Linked DNA regions of Homo sapiens: region 2 is linked to region 1. Evidence: fine-mapped expression QTL. A gene starts in region 1. The other region holds a variant in brackets. All regions are shown on one strand. Distances are from middle to middle.

Region 1 (5,377 bases):
AAACTTAGCTGGGCGTGGGGGTGGGTGCCTGTAATCCCAGCTACTCAGGAGGCTGAGGCAGGAGAATCACTTGAACCTGGGAGGCGGAGGTTGTAGTGAGCCGAGATTGCGCCATTGCACTCCATCCTGGGCGACAGAGTGAGACTCTGTCTCAAAAATAAAAAAATAAATAAAAATAAAAGCAGAGAGTTTTCTCTGGCTGGTAGCAAAAGAGGAAGTTAGAGAGAGATCTGATGTAGGAGGATGTTTGGCACGCAAGAAGGTCTCTGTCGCTGGCTTTCAAGATGGAAGGGGTCATGTGGCAAGGAATGCAGGTGACCTCTAGGAACTGAAGGCAGGCCCAGGAAATAGGGATGTCAATCCTACAACCACAGGAAACTGAATTGTGCCCCAAAGAAGAATGAGCTTGGAAGATCTTTGCAAGGGCCTCTAGATAAAAAGTCAGCCCAGCTGATACCTTGATTTCAGCCTTGCAATATACCCTGAGTAGAGAACTCAGCCTTGCCCCTGTGCAAACTTCTGATCTGTATAACTGGGAGCTAAAAAACAGACACTGTTTTAAGTCACTAAGTTTGTGGCAGTTTGTTATGCAGCAACAGAAAAGGAACATGCCACATTTCCTCTCTGAAGTCATCTCTCACTTCCCCAGACACACCTGTGACATCTTCCTCTTGCTGCTGTGGTGCCTGATACACATCCCTCCCATGATGCAGGTCACAGTGTGTTATCATTATCCATTTACCTGTCTGCCTTCCTCACAGGATTCTGAGTTCCTGGGCAGTGGGGACTATATAATTTTATCACTGCAATCCCAGGCACAGAGTAGGAAGGCAAAAAAATATTCATTGAATGATGGTTTCATCAATAAAAAAATCCCAATATCACTAATTTGTAATCATATATACTAAAATAACCAAAGATGTCAGAGATTTAATATCTAAGCAAGAGGAAAAGTCACCAATATAAAAGGAGAATGGCGAAAAAGAAAGAATAGCTACTATAACTATACCCACGGGATGTTTCTGAGGAACCCAGAGGTGAATGAAGTCCCCGGGGTGGTAAGTGAGGGAAGGGAGTGGAGAAATGAGCAGCACTATGAGGGGAAAAAATTTATCTCTAGATTACTTAGTAAACAAACACGTTTTTATTGAATGCCTGCTATGTGGTGACCCAGTAACTGTGGAGAACAATATAGATATTTAAGATTTAAATACTATCCTCCGGCGTTCTGAGACCCTCCTTTCTGTGGCATACAGGTCTTAGAATGTTAGATTCAAGAAGGTCTTAGATTTATGCATAAGTCCCCCATTTTTTAAACAAATAGAAGCAAACTGATTTTCCACTGACCTCTGTGTTTCTGAGGTGCACATCCTTGTTCCTGTGACTTTGACACCTCTGTTAATGGGTCTGTAATAAAAATTCCTGGAAGAAACCCAGAGATATTTTGACATTACACAACAGTTTCTCCCTCAGTCTCTGCCCCACAAGTGCCAGCTCCCTTGACCCTCAGAGCCCAAGTTGGGTAGCTCCTTACCTCTGGTTCGGGTGAGTCCCATTCCCATCTCTCTCATTTCAACTGCTCCAGTGGAAATGTGGTCTGGAATATGCATGAAAGGGGTGGATCCAGAATGTACGAAGAAACCAAGAAGAAGCTGAACAGGGAAGAATGGTACAGGAAGTTGTAAGGGGTATTTAAGGAAAGGAGAAGAGATGGGGCGGAAAGGTGCTTTCTGGATCAAAGTAGGGTGAAAACGTCGGGATGCAGGTTAGTCACACCACGGAGGGCCTCACCACTAGTCTGATTAATTTGCATTTTATCCTGTGGGAGATGAGGAGCGAAAGAAAGGGTTTTAGACTCTAGCTTTGGGGGTGGGGTGTCAACTCATGTCTCTGGGCTTAAGTTTCCACATCTGTTAAGCTGGAGAAGTAATACTTGCTGGGCTAACCAATGTACACAACCAGTCATAACCAAGTATCGATGGTGATAAGAACTAAACAGAAAACACAAATAACACTTAGCCAGTCTCCAAGGGGGTGGTTTAAGGTTAGGTGGCAAGCCTGAAGTAATTTCTAAAGTCCCTCAGGAAAAAAATTCTGAAACTTGAGCCACAAATTAAGAGGCAGACGGCTTTTCTCCTTGCAAATGACCTGCCACACAGTCCGTCACTGCCTCTGCTAGCTCTGCTACCCTTGGGCCCTGTCCACAGCCCACGTGGGAGACCTTTTCACGGGATCTACTCGGATGTCTGGGATCTGGCCACTACCGCAGGCTCGAGACAACCCAGGTGCGTATGCGCCGCGCACACGGAACAGCACAGGCTGCCCCGGGGCAGGGGCGGGGGCGGGGCCGAGGCCGGGGCGGAGCCAGGACTGGGAATCCCCGCGCCGTCCGGCCGGTGGGGGCGGTGGCCTGTGTGTGGGCGTGGCGGGCCTCTGCGCAGGCGCCGACCCACTCCCCTGGGCCGGGCGCGCGCCCGCGGCGGGTTCCGCTACCGCCGGGCGGAGGGGTGCGCGCGCACGAGCGAGCGGCCGTGACGTGCGCCGCGCTACGCCCGACGTCACGGGTCCGTGTGTAGTGGCTGCCGGGCTGCCTGCCCTCAGCGGCGGCGCCTGACGAGGGTGCCGCGGCCGCTGGGCGCAGCGTTCGGGGGTTGCACGGCCCGCGGCGGCGACGAAAACAACGACCAGGACGCTCGGCGCCCCTGTCCGCAGAGTCGCCACTCCCGCCTCTTCTCCGGTCTCTAGCGACGCGGGCCCGCGGCTTCCTCCTTTCCTGCCCAGTTCCCGCGGGCCTCGGGGTTGCAGCGGCTAGAAGTGCCGAGGAGCGCCAGGAGGACCCGGCCGGCTGCGAGGATTCACGCGCCCGCCACCCCGCCCGGCCCGGGCTTCATGTGAAAGAGGGACGGGCCTGGCCCCAAGGCCCGCGCCCGACTCCTCGCGCGCCCCTCCGGTCCCCGGGGGCCCTGCGGCAGCCCCCGACCTGGGGCCGCGGTGACAGGCCGCGCTGGGGCGGAGGGGCGGGCTCGGCGGGGGCGGCCCCTCCTTGGGCCTGCGGCTCTCTACGTCCCTGCGGAGCAGCCGGTACGTGCGTGTGTGCGTGCGCGCGCGCTTGTGTGTGTGTGTGTGTGTGTGTGCGCGCGTGTGTGTCGGGGGCCGCGGGCTGGGCGCCGGGAGGGGGGCTGGCGGCGGCCTAAGCGCCGCTCCAGGGGCGGAGATTTCGCTGGGTGATTGCCTAGCTGCGGGAGGGCGGACCTTGGGCCCCCTGCATCCAGTCCTAAAGCCCAGGTCAGCGCGAAGTAGGCTGCTGGGCTGTGTTAGCTGTCAGACACGTACCCTGCAGAGATTTTAGAAGAAAGGTTGCATCTGGTCTTGGGATGAAGCAGAAATGGTACATGCAGTAAGCGAAAAAGTGCTTGTCTTTGCACTGTCACAGTGTGGTAATCTTTTGATGTAAGGTTGTTTCCCCCTTTTCTCTTTACGGAATATTTAGGTAGCACTTAGGGTGCTCTTAGTCTGCGCCCGGCAGTTGTCATGCATTATCTCTCTTCATCTTCCCAGCTCAATGAGGTGGGTAAATTGCCCCATTTTGCAGGTGAAAACTTGAGGCTCAGAGAGATTAAGGCATTTGTCCAAGGTCATGAAGGTAGTAATCCAGGAAGGCTTGGTTCGAATATGCAGATGTCTTTTTGTAAGACTGTATTTCTCGTCTTGCAAAAAATAAATACGTTTAGAAAATGAGACTAACTGGGCAGTTTCTTTAATGGGATAAATTCTAAACACATAGACAGATACAGTTTAGTTTTCCCTAACGTAAGCTCTTCGATATCTTTTGCCAAATCATTTTCTTGGCTTTAAAAAAAATTTAAAAGATGGCTTCAGATACCTTTACTTTTTATGTACTAGTACTGGACAGAAAAAAATTATTCTCTCACAAAAAATAAATACATTTGGTAAAACTGCATAGATCTTGAAAAGTCACAAATTTACTTTTGTAGTTTGACCTTGATGCCCAAAGGGAACTCACAGTTGGGTTATTTGCTTGAGATTTCCTTGTTGCAAAATTTGTTGCTGGATTATGTGGCAATTTAGTGATTTGTTCGTTGTCTTATGCAATCTTTTTTAGTTCGATGTCAAATTTTAATGCGTAGAATATCGTAGGAAGTTTGATGGTGTGATTCTTTTTCATTTGTATGGAGTGCTACTAGTCAGTGTTTATAAGTTAACTGAAAATTCTCATTTTAGCATGAGTTTTGTATTTTTTAAAACTATGGTGAGAGGAAAAAATAAGGAGCCAGAGCTCTGTACTGAAAAAAAGTCGATACATTTCCTTTGAGTAATTGAAGCTCTATGCATAATTGCAAATGTTTAACAAATCTATTGATGCCCAGTTATATTACTCTGTAATTTTCCTAGTATATTATCAAGTTGAAGAAAATTTGTGGTCTTGCAGTCTCTGTGGAGAAAAGGTGAAATTACAAAGTTAACATGTGGATGGTTTACAGATTGATTTGTTGTTTGGTTAAAATATAAACATGTTGAATCTTATTGAATTATGTTGTATATGATATCATTATAGAATGGTTATCCATGTGCCTCTTTTGAGAAACTAGCTGTTAAAGGCTTATCTTAAATAATTGGATTGCATTAGAGACTGAGTCTTATAAGCAATGTTTTAGGGGGAGCTTTTGTTTCTAGTTTACTTTATTGGTACCAAAGGGTTAAACTAACAGGTGCTGTATTAAAATAAAGTCATGTTTGATACTCTGCATTTCCTACAGCGTTGGTTTCAGGTTGATTTTCTCTTTCCCTATAGAATTGGAGCTATTTCCCCCCACCTCCCACTTTTTATTATCAAACAATTTCAAGCATACAGAAAATTTGGTAATAGTAAACCACTTGTATCTTGACCCTCTAGATTAAACATTTGTTGTTATCTTGCCATATTTGCTTTATCTATAGGTACATGTACAGGCATACCTTAGAGAGATTGTGGCTTTGGTTCCAGACCACTGCAATAAAGGAAAAGAAGTGAGTCACATAAACTTTTTAGTTTCACGGTGCATATAGTTATGTTTACAATATACTGTAGTCTATTGTGTGCAATGGCATTATGTCTAAAAAAAGTATATACCTTAATTAAAAAATTATTTATTGCTAAAAATTTCTAAAGAAATTTGAGCCTTTAGGGAATTGTAATCTTTTTGCTGGTGGAGGGTCTTGCCTCCATGTTGATGGCTGCTGACTAGTAAGGATGGTTGATAAGGGGTGGTTGTTGAAGTTTGGGATGGCTGAGGCAATTTCTTAAAGTAAGACATTAGTGAAGTTTGCCGCATCGATGGACTCTTCCTTTCAGGAAAGATTTCACTCTGGCATGTGA
Region 2 (5,377 bases), 140 kb after region 1:
ATTTAAAAAAAAAAAGAAAGAAAAAAGAAAAGGGGGAAAGAAAAACACTTCTGCTGTGCTCCCCAGGACTGTGAGAAGTGGGGAGGCGGCGATTCCCGGCCTCTTTCACTTTGTAAGGGCCTCTGGGTCAACCCCTCAGCCACCGCCATCGTGAAACCTTGCGCCCCTCCCGCATATGTAGTTTTGTGAAATGCTGCCACATTACCCTTTACAGGGTTGTACTTATTCACATGTCCCCTAGCCATGCATGAGAGGCTTGTCTATCCACTGCGTTACCATCAGAGCGTATTGTTATATTTTTTAAATGTTGAAGATATAGGCTTGGTGCAGTGGCTCACACCTACAGTCCTAGCACTGTACAGCTAAGGCGAGTGGGTCACTTGAGCCCAGGAATTCCAGACCAGCCTGGGCAACATAGTTAAACCTCATCTCTACAAAAACACAAAAAGTTAGCAGGGCGTTGTGGCACGAACCATGACCGCACTGCTGCACTCTGGCCTGGGTGACAAAGTGAGCCTCTGTCTTAAAAAACAAAATAAAAGAAAATATTATAGGTGAGAAATGGTATTTTAGTGTAGTTTTAATTGACATTTCTCTTATGAATTAGGTTGAAAAATCTTTCATATATGTGTGTGTATGTGTGTGTGTGTATGTGTGTATGTATGTGTGTGTGTGTGTTTCTGTGTATAAATTCCCCATTCTTATCTTTTGCCATTTTTTTCTATCGGGTTAAAAAAAATCTAAGCTGAGTGCAGTGGCAGATGCCTATAGTCTCAGCTACTTGGGAGATGGGAGGATTGCTTGGGCCAGGAATTTGAGGCTGCAATGCTCAAAGATGGTGAGATGGCACCTATGCATAGCCATTGCACTCCAGCCTGGGCAACATAGCGAGACCCTCATCTCTAAAAATGAAAAACAAAATATAAGTAAATAAACATTTTTAAAAATAAACCTTTATTCATTTATTTATTTATTTTGAGACGGGGTCTCACTCTGTCACCAAGGCTGGAGTGCAGTGTCACTATCACAACTCACTGCGGCCTCCACCTCCTGGGCTCAGACGATCCTCCCACCTCAGCCTTCCATGTAGCTTGAACCGCAGATGTGCGCCACCATGCCTGGCTAATTATTTTTATTGTTTTGTAGAGACAAGTTCTCATCTTGTTTCCCAGGCTGATCTCAAACTCCTGGGCTCAAGAGATCCACCTGCCTCAGCCTCCCAGAGTGCTGAGTACTACAGGTGTGAGCCACAGCACCCAGCCTCTCCACTGGCTTTTGGGGTAATATATGTTGTAAATATTTTCTCCCAGTGTGTTGGCTGTCTTTTTACTTTGCTTATGGTGATATTTGCCATGCCAAAAACCCTCATTTTTTGTTTTAATTTAATCAGTTTTATCAATGTTTTTAGTGCATTTAGTGAATCTGGATTTTGAGTCATAATTAGAATGTCTTTCCCTACATGCAAGTTAAAGAGAAATTCACCTCGTTTTCTCCTAATACTTGTAGGGATGTATTTTCCATTTAGATTCCTGATCATTTGGAGTTTATTTTTCAGTAGGTGTGATGAGGTGTAGCTCAGTTTCATCTTTTCCCCCAAATGGCAAACCAATTGTCCCAGCATCATTTATTTAAAAGTGCATTTTTGCCCTAGTGATTTCAGTTGCTACTCTTATCATACACTAAAGTTCCATATGTATTTAAAATTATTTCTGTTTTTTCTGTGACAGACTTGACAAACTATAATAGACTTGCTTACCTATTCAAGTGCTAGTACTACATTGTTGTAATTATAGAGGTTTTATAGTATGTTTCAATGTCTGATTGGGCTAGTCACCTTCATAGCTTTTCCTTTTTAGTGATTTCCTGGCTATTCCTAAATTACATGTTTATTTTTCCATATGAAGTTTAACATCAACTTATCTAGTTCCATTTTTTCAAAAAGCTTGCTGGCATTTTTTATTGGGATTACATTAAATTTATAAGTTAACTTAGGGAGACCTGACATTTTTATTATGTGTAGTCATTCAAAGAACAATAAATGTCTTTCAATTTGTTCAAGTACACTTTTATGTTTTTAAAATTTTCCTCGTGGATTTTGTACATTTCCTATTAGTACTTATTCCTAAATACTTTATCTTCTTTTTTGCCATATAAATGGCATTTTCCATGCCATTATATACTCTAACTGGTTATCATTGTGTATATGAAGGCTATCAAGTTCTATAAGATAATT[C/T]TACAGCTTGCTACCTTATCGAATTGTTAGTTTTATTGATTTTCTAGGGTTTTGTATGTACACTCGTATCATCTGCTAGATATAGTTTTACTTTTTCAAATCTCATGCATCTTATTGATTCTTCTTGTCTAATTGCATTGGGCTTATATCTCTAGTATAATGTTGATTAGTAGTGGAGATGGTGGGCAAATTCATCTTGTTCTCGATCTTAGTGGAAAGTTTCTGGGGCTTCCCCATTAAAGAGTTGGTGGCTTTTTCACTAAAAGTGTATGTGTTGGGGTGGGAGTGTGTGTGTATGAAAGTGCACATATGTGTATTTACATGTTAATAAAGGATAGGTCAAGGGTGGTGGCTCATGCCTGTAATACCAGCACTTTGGGAGGTCATGGTGGGAAGATCACTTGACGCCAGAAGTTTAAGAGTAGCCTGGGCAACATAGCGAGACCCTGTCTCTACAAAAACATTAAAAAATTAGCTGACTGTGGTGGCCTGTGCCTGTAGTCCCATCTACTCGAGAGGTCTAAGTGGGAGGATTGCTTAAAACCCAGGATTTGGAGATTTCAATGAGCTATGCTGACACCACTGCACTCCAGCCTGGGCAACAGAGTGAGACCCTATCTCTAAAAATACTCTGAATAATATAACTTATTTTCTTGAGGGTTTTTTTTTTCTTGAGACAGTATCACTCTGTCACCCAGGCTGGAGTGCAGTGGTACCATCTTGGCTCACTGCAACCTCTGCCTCCCAGGTTCAAGCTATTCTCCTGCCTCAGCCTCCAGAGTAGCTGGGACCACAGGTGCACTCCACCACACCTGACTGATTTTTATATTTTTAGTAGAGATGGGGTTTCGCCATGTTGGCCAGGCTGGTTTTGAACTCCTGACCTCAAGCCATCCACCGCCTTGGCCTCCCAAAGTGCTGGGATTACAGGCACGAGCCACCACTTCTGGCCATTTCTTGAGTTTTAAAATTTTCTTTTTTATTTTCTTGAGACAAGTTCTCACTCTGTCACCCATGCTAGAGTGAGTGGCACAGTCATGGCTCACTGCAGCCTCCACCTCCTGAGTAGCTGGGACTATAGGTTCACACCTTCTGTAGTCCTGGCTAATTTTTTTTTTTTTTTTTTTTAGTAGAGAGGGGGTGTGGCTCACACCTGTAACACCAGCATTTTGGGAGGCTGAGGCAGGCAGATCACTTGAGTACAGGAGGTCCAGATCAGCCTGGGCAGCACGGTGAAATCCTCTCTCTACTAAAAAAACAAAAATTACACACTCTTGAGTTTCTTTAAACAGGAGTAGGTAAGGAATTTGAAAAGGCTTTTTAAAAGCATCTATGGAAATAAACATATGATTTTTCTCCTTAGATCTGTAAATACAGTGTGTTAGTTCACTTATTAATATTTAGCCAGTGTGCATTCCAGGAACAAATCCCACTTGGTTATGTTGTATCATTTTCATAGTGTGGTGTTGTATTCTGTTAAATAGGGTTTTATTTAGAACTTTTTCATGAATATTCGTAAGTGATATTTGTAATTTTCTTTTTTTGCTGTTTTTATCAAGTTTAGTTGTTAATGCTATACTTATTTTCTAAAAACAGTTCAGGAATGTTCCTTCATTCCCAATGATCTGGAAAAACTTGTGAAGTACTGTGACTGCCTGGTCTTTGAAGATTTGGTAGAAAACCTTGTGAGACCATGAGGTTTTTTTGTTTGTTTGTTTTTGTTTTTGTTTTTTAATGTGAAAGTTCCTTGATAATTATCTCTGTTTCTTCGAAGTAAATTAGTCTGTTTAAACTGTTTGTCTCTAAATGGGGTCAATTTCAATACATTCTATCTCTCTTAAAGTTATCCACTTCATATAGATTGTCAGTATTTTCACAGAGGTCTGAAAAGTAGCCCCGTTATGTTTTTAAAAATACCTTCTGTTTCAATGGTTATTTCCCCATTTGATATTTCTTATTTTGTGCATTTGTACTTTTTCTCTTTTTCTTGAGTAAATATAGGTCGTAATTTGTCTATTTTATTTTCCCCCAAAATTACAGATTTTAATTGCATCTATTGTAATTGGATCTATTGTTTTAAAATTCTTTATCTCATTAATTTCTGCTTTCATTTTTTATTATTTTCTATCTCTAGCTTTTATAACTATTTTCCTTACTACTTTAGATTTAATTTGCTCTTCTTTTTTAGTTTCCTAAGGTGGAAACTTAGATTATTGATTTTAGGTCTTCATTCTGTTCTGATATGTACACTCAATGCTATAAATTTCCTCTTAAGCACTGCTTTTGCTGCATCCCACAAATTTTGATAACCTTTATTTTCATTTTTGTTTAATTTGAAATATTTTAAAATTTATCTTGAGAATTCTTTGATCCATGAGTTATTTAGAAGTATGTTGTGGTAATCTTCAAATATTTAGGAGTTTTCTAGCTATTTTTCTGTTATTGATTCCTAGTTTCATTCTGTTGTCATCAGATAGCATACTGCTCATAGTTTGAATGTGTCCCCCAAATTTTATGTGTTGGAGACTTCATCCCTAGTGTAGCACTATTGAAAGGTGGGGCCTTTAAGAGGTCATTGGATCATGAGGGCTCTGCCCTCACACATGGATTAATCATGGGTTAATGGATTAATGGGTTATCATTGGAGTGGAGCTGGTGGCTTTATCAGATGGGAGAGACCTGATTTAGTATGTTAGCATGCTTAGCCCCCTTGCTATATGATACCCTGCACTGTCTTGGGACTCTGCAGAGTCCCCACTAGTGAGAAGACTCTCACCAGATGCATTCCCTTGATCTTGGCCTTCTCAGCTTCCATAACTGTAAGAAATAACTGTCCAGTCAGAAGTTTGCTGCAGGGGTGGAGCCCTCATGGAGAACCCCTGCTAGGGCAGTGTGGAAGGGAAACGTGGGGTCAGAGCCCCACAGAGTCCCCATTGGGGCACTGCCTAGTGGAACTGTGAGAAGAGGGCCACCATAGTCCAGACCCCAGAATGGTAGATCCACTGACAGCTTGCACTCTGTGTTTCGAAAAGCTGCAGACACTCAACACCAGCCCTTGAAGGCAGCTGGGAGGGAGGCTGTACCCTGCAAAATCATGGGGACAGAGTTGCCCAAGAAGATGGGAGCCCCCCACTTGCATCAGCA

Evidence for each region. PIP is the estimated chance that this variant, and not a neighbour inherited with it, causes the effect.
Region 2: its variant is fine-mapped to the expression of MAP3K2-DT in whole blood (INTERVAL, PIP above 0.99).

What each region holds. Positions count from the first base shown.
Region 1 is chr2:127,385,156-127,390,532 of GRCh38, reverse strand. MAP3K2-DT (MAP3K2 divergent transcript) reads right to left here and starts at 3,095. Exons shown (of 4, transcript NR_187129.1): 1 at 2,981-3,095; 2 at 1,535-1,652; 3 at 1,348-1,422. It overlaps MAP3K2 (mitogen-activated protein kinase kinase kinase 2), which reads left to right and starts at 2,558. Exons shown (of 17, transcript NM_001371910.2): 1 at 2,558-3,081. It overlaps LOC124906074 (a long non-coding RNA gene), which reads right to left. Exons shown (of 4, transcript XR_007087227.1): 3 at 4,978-5,009; 4 at 4,372-4,453. RefSeq lists a silencer at 2,269-3,138.
Region 2 is chr2:127,241,853-127,247,229 of GRCh38, reverse strand. No RefSeq gene overlaps it. Among named protein-coding and RNA genes, the nearest start is that of CYP27C1, 24 kb to the right of the region's middle. The variant C/T (reference allele first, on the strand shown) is at 2,234.